Linked DNA regions of Homo sapiens: all the other regions are linked to region 1. Evidence: fine-mapped expression QTL. A gene starts in region 1. Each other region holds a variant in brackets. All regions are shown on one strand. Distances are between the middles of the regions.

Region 1 (2,841 bases):
CACATCCTCTGTTGGCACAAGTGTCTTCCACACTGTTCTTCTTCCCTGAGATTCCCTCCTCCCTCTGGTTAGCTCCTAATCACCTTCAGGACTCTAAACAGATGTCACCTCACCTCCTTTGAAGAAACCCTCCCTGACTGTCGGGGATGGAGGAGGTACTTGCTTGAGTGCCCAATACTGCCCTCTGCACAAGCCCATTCCATGCCATGCTCTGATACCTGTTGTCCTATCTCCAAGTGTGACCTCTCTCCTCCTAATCACCCCCCACAGAGTGGGAGAATCCTAGAGGGAAGGATCTGGCAAGGCCCTTACAGACCATCCAGTCAGCCTTCTCAACTAGACAGATGGAGAAACCAGGCCTGTGCAACAGTAATGGCCACTCTGGGCTTACGGTGTGCCAGGCACTGTCATACTAGTGATAACTAACTAGTAGCTGCCCTACTAGTTAGGTATTATCCTTAACCCATCTACCGGTAAGGAAGCTGGATCAGAGATGTCCTACATGAATTTCTGAGCAGTTTATGCCTCATTTCTTCTGTGAATTGTACACTGCCTGTGCCCGTTTTCCTACGTGAATGCTGTTTTAGTTACTGATCAGTAAGGTTTTGTGTATGTGTATACATCTAAGGTCCTCTGCCAGGCACGCTACTGCAAATAATTTTTTCTGGTTAGTTTAGTTTGGTCTAATAGTGTTGTTTTTGATACACAAGCTCTTAATATATATTTAGACAAATGTCCACCATTTCCTTGCTTTTAAGCTTGAAATGACTTCCATTATCTGAGATTTCCTTAACAAAGGAAAAAGCCTGGACCCCAAACTATCCCTTAACAAGCACAGGCTGACGCTCCCAGTGAGCCAGCCTGGTCCTAAACTCTATCTGCCACCATTTAACCCTCACGGCAACTTGCGAGGCGGCTGGTTATCACCGTGGTCGTTTTATGGTCGGGGAAGCTGAGGCCAGAGCCCGGGCAGGAGCGCACACAACCAGACGGTGGGGCGTGCGGGAGATCGGAGCGGTGTCCCTGCGGGGGCTCCGCCTGGCTCCTGGCGCTCCGCACCTCCCAGCCCTCGGCGTCCCGGCGCGCCACCACCCGGAAAAGAACGACCGCTTCCGCACTCCCCCCACCAGGGGCTGGGGCCTGCAAGGGGGACTCGAAGCCTCCCGCCGCCTCCCGCCCCTTGCCTGGCAGCGGAGGACCCAAGCAAGGGCAAAGAGTTCCAACCCAGCCAGAGCCGCACCTCTTGCAGCGACTCCGGCACCAGCGCGGGCACGATGGGCCGCTTCACGCCGCGCTGCTCCTTCTCCTTCTCGCCGCCCTTCTCCTTTCCGTTCTCCGTATCACCCTTCTCAGCCTGGGTCATTATGGCCGGAGACACCCACCAACCTCTCGCCTCAGCGCTGCAGCCACGACTGCCGGGATGGAAGGGCCACCGCGCAGGCGCACGGCCGGCTGCCCACAGTCAAGATGGCCGCCGCGGAGTCGCCCCAGAGGGCTCCGAAAAGGCGGGGGTGGGGCTGCCCGGCGCAGGGGCTGGGGGCGGGGTGTGCATGCGGATTGATTGGGTGGGTGTTGCTGTGATTAGTCCTGACTGTGTAGATGCCAGCAACATAGTACACATAGCTTTTCGAGCGCCTAGTGGGGGTCGGCTGATAACCCGCATCTTATTTCGTCCTCACAGGCATCTCTTCTCCTGGCTTCCCAGATACCATATGTACTCTTAGTTTTTCTCATATGTCTTCATGTTCAGTCCAGCCTCTGATGTTGGGGTTAGGTCTTTTCCAGGCACACTCCTTGGGTGACTATCCAGTTTCCTGGCTTTAGCAATGAATACGATTCCCAAATATATATATCCAGGATGAACCGCTCAGAGAGATCCGTACTGATAACCAGTGCCTACTTGGTCTCTCCATCTGGATTGTCTACAAGGCACTGCAAACTTAAATATGTCCAAAATTTAACTCTTGATTCCCTCCCCTCTCACTTTCACCATCTCAGTAAATGTCATTTTGATTCTTCACTTGTTGACAGCTTCTACATCCAATCCATCAGTAAATCCTGCAGTCTCTAAAATAGATCTTGAATTCATCCACTTCTCCATTCCCATGCCACTACCTAGCCCAAGCCACTATCATCTCACCTGGATGACTACAACAGCCTCTTAACTCGAACTCCTTGTCCTGTCCCCCTATGATCTGTTCTTATATAGTTGCCCACGTTGTTTTAAAATATTACGTAGTTAATACTACTATGTACCCAGCACTCCACTAAGACTTACCTCAAAAATTAGATGTCACTCATGCTTTAAACTCTAATGGTTTCCCTTTGCTCAAAGAACAGAATCTAAACTAACCACCACCTAAAGACCATATCTAGTTATTGCTACATTTCTAAGTTCACCTCACAACACTCTCCCCATTCCTTGGCATTTCCAGCTACACCTGTTTTATCTTTCTCAGACATGCCAAGCCCTTCCCGTCATCGGGCTGTTGCACTTGCTGTTCATTTTGCCTTGGATGCTCTTCCCTCAGCTGTCTCATTCTCACGTCTGAACTCAAATGTCACCTCAGGCCTTCCGCAGTTATTCTCTCATCATCCTATTCCCTTTGAAGCATGAAGCATTAGTCTGTAATTATCATGCCTGCTCACTGTCTCCCACACTAGAATGTAAGCTCCGTGAGACTTTGCCAGTTATCTTCAGCACATGGTAGGTGCCCAATAAGCATGTGATGACTAAATACTAAATAAAGAACTCTTGGAGGTAAAAATTTAATCCCCGTTTTACAGGTGAGTGAAGTGGGATAAAATGGCATAATTCACTCAAGATCATAAGCTATTGAG
Region 2 (2,500 bases), 21 kb before region 1:
CCAGGTGAAAGCAGGGTCAGGACTTCCAGATCTTCTGACTGTCCCGTTTTTATTTTTACCATTGAGCCTTCTACCAGTACTGAAATGGGCAAAAGATGGCTGATAACAAATTACACTTTACCTGTGATGGTTACTCTATGCTAGTTCCTGTTTTTTAAAAAATAGTTCTTATGAGGTGTTAAGAAAAGCTTTCGCTTGGATTCATACACAGTTGACCCTTGAACAACACAGGTTTGGACTGCGCAGAGCCACTTACACCTGGATTTTTTCAATACATATATTGGAAAATTTTTTGGAGATTTGTATCACTTTGAAAAAACTTAGATGAAACTCGGATGAACTTTTCAATTAAAATATTGAAAAAAATGAAGAAAAAGGTATGTCATAAATGCAGAAAATGTATACAGATACTAGTCTACTTTATCATTTCCTACCATACCAATAGTTAACTATTTTAACTATTAAAAGTTAAAAATTTATCAAAACTTAAACACACACATACCAACTGTACATGGCACCATTCACAGTTGAGAGAAACGTGAGCATAAAGATGTGGTATTAAATCATAACTGCATACAATTAATTGCAGTGCGTACTGTCCTGCTGTGAATAATTTCCTAGCCACCTCCTGTTGCTACTGTGGTGAGCTCAAGGGTTGCAAGTATCGACTTAAAACACCCTGTGATGCTAACCATCTCCAAACGAGCAGTTCCTGTCTCCAGTAAATTACATATCACAGTAAAAAGTATCTCCAGTGGTTCTCTGGTATTTTTCGTGTTTAGTGCAATATCGTAAACCTTCAATAACACCTTAGGACCCATACGAAGTGCCACTAGTAATGCTGGCAGTGCTCCCAAGAAGCAGTGTCATGAAAAAAAGCAAAAAAAACTTTTTTTTTTCATTACAAGAAAAAAAGCCAAATTGCTTGATATGTACCATAAATTGAGGGTCTGCAGCTGTGATTGTTCACCATTTCAAGATAAATGAATCCAGCGTAAGGACCATAGTCAAAAAAGAAAAAAATTC[A/C]TGAAGCCATCACTACAGCTACACCAGCAGACATGAAAACCTTGCACATTTTGCAGAATACCTTTTAATCTTGTATTGAAAATGTAGCTTTTATGTGGGTGCAGGATTGCTGTAAGAAAGGCATATCTGTAGACTCTAATATGATTTGAGAAAAAGCAAAGTCATTATATGACAACTTAAAGCAAAAGGAAGGTGAAGCATCTAAAGCTGGAGAATTTAATGCCAGTAAAGGATGGTTTGATAATTTTTAAAAGTGGTTTGGCTTAAAAACTGTCAAGATAACAGGAGAAGCAGCTTCTGCTGACCAAGAGGCAGCAGGTGAGTTCCCGGATGCCATTAAGAAAATCACTGAGGAGAAAGGATACCTGCCTGAACAGGTTTTCAGTGCAGATGAAAGTGTCCTCTTCTGGGAAAAAAATGCTACAAAGGACATTGATTAGTAAGGAAGAGAAGCATGCATCAGGATTTAAGGCAGGAAGGGACAGGCTAACTGGACTGCTTTGTACAAATGCAATTGGGTTTATGATCAGGACTGGCCTTATCTATAAAGCTGCTAACCCCCTGGCCTTGAAGGGAAAAGATAAACACCAGCTGCCAATCTTTTGGTTGTACAATAAGAAGGCCTGGACACTGAGAAAACTTTTCTGGATTGGTTCCACTGATGCTTTGTCCCTGAAGTCAGAAGTACCTTCCCAGGAAGCGACTGCCTTTTAAAGTTCTTTTGATATTGGACAATGCCCCCAGCCACCCAGAGCCCCATGAGTTCAACACTAAAGTCCTCAGAGTGGTCTCCTTGCCCCCAAACACATCATAATTTGGCCTCTAGATTGGGAGGCCATAAGGACCTTCAAGGCTCATTACACACAGTACTTTATGGAAAGGATTGTCAACACTATGGACGAGAACACCAACAGAGAGAACAACATGGAAGTCTGGAAGAATTACATCACTGAAGATGCCATCATTGTGACAGAGCAAGCCATGAAAGCCATCAAGCCTGAAACAATAAATTCCTGCAGGAGAAAACTGTCCAGATGATGTGCATGACTTCACAGGATTTACAACAGAGCCAATCAAGGAAAGAGATTGTAGATGTGGCAAAAAAGGTGGGGGGTGAAGGGTTTCAAGATACGGATCTTGGAGAAATTCAAGAGCTAACAGATAACCACACTAGAGGAACAAAGAGAAGACAACCTGCTGGAGACGAGTGCTTCCCCATCAGTGTGAGGTGATGATGAAGACGACACAGAAGCAGCAGCATCAGAAAACAAATCGACATTAAACAATCTGGCAGGTTTCTGATTAGTCAAGACTGCTTTTCACTTCTTTTGTAACACAGACCCTTCTATGATACAAGCATTAAACCTAAAGCAAGTGGTGGAGGAAGGATTGGTACCATATACAAATATTTTTAGAAAAATGAAAAAGCAAAAAAGCCAGAAATTATGATGTCTTTCTGTAAAGTTACACTGAG
Region 3 (2,858 bases), 25 kb after region 1:
GGAGGATCACTTGAGCCTGGGAGGTCAAGGCTGCAGTGAGCTGTGATTGTACCACTGCACTCCAGCCTGGATAACAGATTGAGACTCTGCCTCAAAAAAAAAAAAAAAAAAGAAAAAAAAGATTTATGGGCAAAGAAGCAAAGCAAAGCAAAGAAGCAAAGCAAGCAATGTCTAAAGAATGAAAAAGGCCAGACATGGTGGCTCATGTCTGTAATCCCAGCACTTTGGGAGGCTGAGGCAGGTGGATCACGAGGTCAGGAGATTGAGACCATCTGGGCCAATATGGTGAAACCCTGTCTCTACTAAAAATACAAAAATTAGCTGGGTGTGGTGGTGCACACCTGTAATCCCAGCTACTTGGGAGGCTGAGGCAGGAGAATCACTTTAATTTGGGAGGTGGAGATTGCAGTGAGCTGAGATCACACCACCGTACTCCAGCCTGACGACAGAATGAGATGCTGTTTAAGAAAAAGAAAAAAAAGAAAAAAAAAAGAAAGAAAGTATGACTGATTGACTGATGTTTTGACAAATAGAAATATCAATAAAGAGATCAAATTTTGTTTAAGAAGAGAGAACCAAATAGAAATTCTAGAGTTGAAAATATAGAAACTGAAATAAAAATCCACTAGAGTGGCTCAACAGCAAACTTGAGCAGGCAGATGAAACAATCAGTGAACTTGATAGATTGAGATTATCCAATCTAAGGAACATAAAGAAAAAAGAATGAAGAAAAGTGAACAGTTTTTAGAGACCTGTAGGACACCATCAGTCATACAAACATATGCATAATGGGAGTCTCAAAAGAGAGGTGGGAAAGAGGGATAAAGAATATTTGAAGAAATAATGGCCAAAAACAGTTCAAGTTTGATGAAAAATATTTGTCTATGCACCCAAGACCTAAAATAACTCCAAATAAAATAAAACCAAAGAAATCCATACCTAGATACATGATAATCAAACTGTGTTGAATCTTTAAAGCAGCAAAAGAGAAGTGACTCATCACACACAAGGAATTCTAAATAAGATTAACACGTGATTTCTCACCAGAAATCACGGAGGCCAGAAGGCAGTGGGATGATATATTCAAAGTGCTGAGAGAAAAAGATTGTGAATCAAGAATTCCATATCTAGAAAAACTATCCTTCAAAAATGAATGAGAAAATAAGACATTCCTGTATAAACATATCCTGAGAGAATTCATTGCTTTAAAATCTGCCCTACAAAAAAATACTAAAGGGATTAATGCAGACTGAAATGAGAGGACAGTAAGCAATAACTCAAATCCACATGAAAAATAAAAAGCAC[T/C]GGTGTGTTAGTTTCTGAGGGCTGCTGTAACAAATTACTACAAACTGGGTGGCTTAAAACAACAGAGATTTATTCTCTCACAGTTCTAGAGGCTAGAAATTCAAAATCTGGCAGGGACACATTTTTTCCAGGGCTCAAGGGAAGAACCCATTCCTTGCCTCTTCCAGTTTCTTATGGCTTGCCCAGAATTCCTGGGCTTATAGTTACATCAATCCAATCTCTGCCTTGTCTTCACATCACCCTTTCCTCTGCGTCTGTCTTCTCCTGTGTGTGTGTATTATAAGGACACTTGTTAGATTTAGGGCCCACCTGGATGATCTCATCTCAAAATCCTTAACTGTCTTACATCTTCAAAGATCTTTTGTTTTTTCTTTTTCAAATAAGGTAACATTTTCATAGGTTTTGGGGTTTGAGACATGGACATATTTGTAGGCGGCCACCATTTGCCCCTCTACAATCAGTAAAGGTAACTACATAGGTAAATAAAAAACACAGTGTAAGTATATTTTTGTAACTTTTTCCTCTTAACTAATTTAAAAGATAAGTGCATTAAACAATAATTATAAAATCTGTAATGATAGGCAAACAATGTAAAAAAAGGTGTAATTTATATGACAGTAACAGCACAAGGGGGGAGAAGAAACGGAACCATACAGGAGCAAAGTTTTTGTATATTTTTGAATTAAGTTAGCATTAATTTAAACTAGAGTTTTAAAAGTTAAGGTGTTAATTGTAATCCCCAGGGCTACTACTAAGAAAATAAGTTTTAAAATATGATAAAATAAGCAACAGGGGAATTAAAAGAAGTCAGTAATGGAGGAGTAGAAATCAAAAAGGCATAAGACATATAGAAAACAAATAGCAGAATGGTAGAAATAAGCTCTGCCTTATCAGTAATTACATTAAATGTAAATAAACACTTCAATTAAGAGGCAGAGATTGGCAGAAGACATTTTTAAAAATGATTTCTGTGTTTCTTACAAAAGACACATTTAGATTTAAGTACACAAATAAGTTGGCAGTAAAAGGATGGAAAAAGATATACCATGCAAACAGTAACCAAAAGAAAACTGGAACCACTATACCAATATCAGATACAATAAACCTTAAGACAAAAATTATCAGTAGAAAACAAGGATATTTGATAAGTATTATAAATCAATACACCAAAAAGGTATAAAAATTATAAACATATATGTACCCCAAAATAGACTTTAAAAGTGTATTAAGCAAATACTGATAAAAGTGAGGAAAGAAATAGACATTTCAACAACAATAATAGTTGGATAATTCAACATCCCACTTTCAATACTGGCAAGAAGACATACACAGAGATAAACAAGAGAATGAAAGACTTGAACAGCACTAAACCAACTAGACCTAACGAACCTCTCTAGAATACACCATGCCAAAACAGCAGAGCACATATCTTTTCAAGCACACATGGAACATTCTCCAGTATAGACATATGTTAGGCCATAAAGCAAGTATTAATACCTTTTAAAAGATTGGAATCATTCGAAGTATTTTTTGTAACTACAATGGAATGAAAT

Direction of the effects. Positions count from the first base shown, and alleles are read on the strand shown. Sizes are in standard deviations (SD) of each study's normalised expression. Not every link is listed here.
For the expression in monocytes after LPS of the gene that starts at base 1,414 in region 1, allele C in region 3 goes with a lower level than allele T (large effect, 1.1 SD a copy in Quach 2016).

The links. PIP is the estimated chance that this variant, and not a neighbour inherited with it, causes the effect. A credible set is the group of variants that fine-mapping cannot tell apart.
Region 2: its variant is the best candidate, but not a certain one, in a credible set for the expression of ACTR8 in lung (TOPMed, PIP 0.74).
Region 3: its variant is the best candidate, but not a certain one, in a credible set for the expression of ACTR8 in monocytes after LPS (Quach 2016, PIP 0.81).

Annotation. Positions count from the first base shown.
Region 1 is chr3:53,880,739-53,883,579 of GRCh38, forward strand. ACTR8 (actin related protein 8) reads right to left here and starts at 1,414. Exons shown (of 13, transcript NM_022899.5): 1 at 1,241-1,414. The coding sequence starts at 1,363. RefSeq lists silencers at 1,041-1,150, 1,541-1,630 and an enhancer at 1,301-1,380.
Region 2 is chr3:53,860,408-53,862,907 of GRCh38, forward strand. The region is part of intron 10 of IL17RB (interleukin 17 receptor B); the gene reads left to right. It also overlaps a transcript of ACTR8 not described here. Among named protein-coding and RNA genes, the nearest start is that of IL17RB, 15 kb to the left of the region's middle. The variant A/C (reference allele first, on the strand shown) is at 1,027.
Region 3 is chr3:53,905,580-53,908,437 of GRCh38, forward strand. No RefSeq gene overlaps it. Among named protein-coding and RNA genes, the nearest start is that of SELENOK, 15 kb to the left of the region's middle. The variant T/C (reference allele first, on the strand shown) is at 1,306.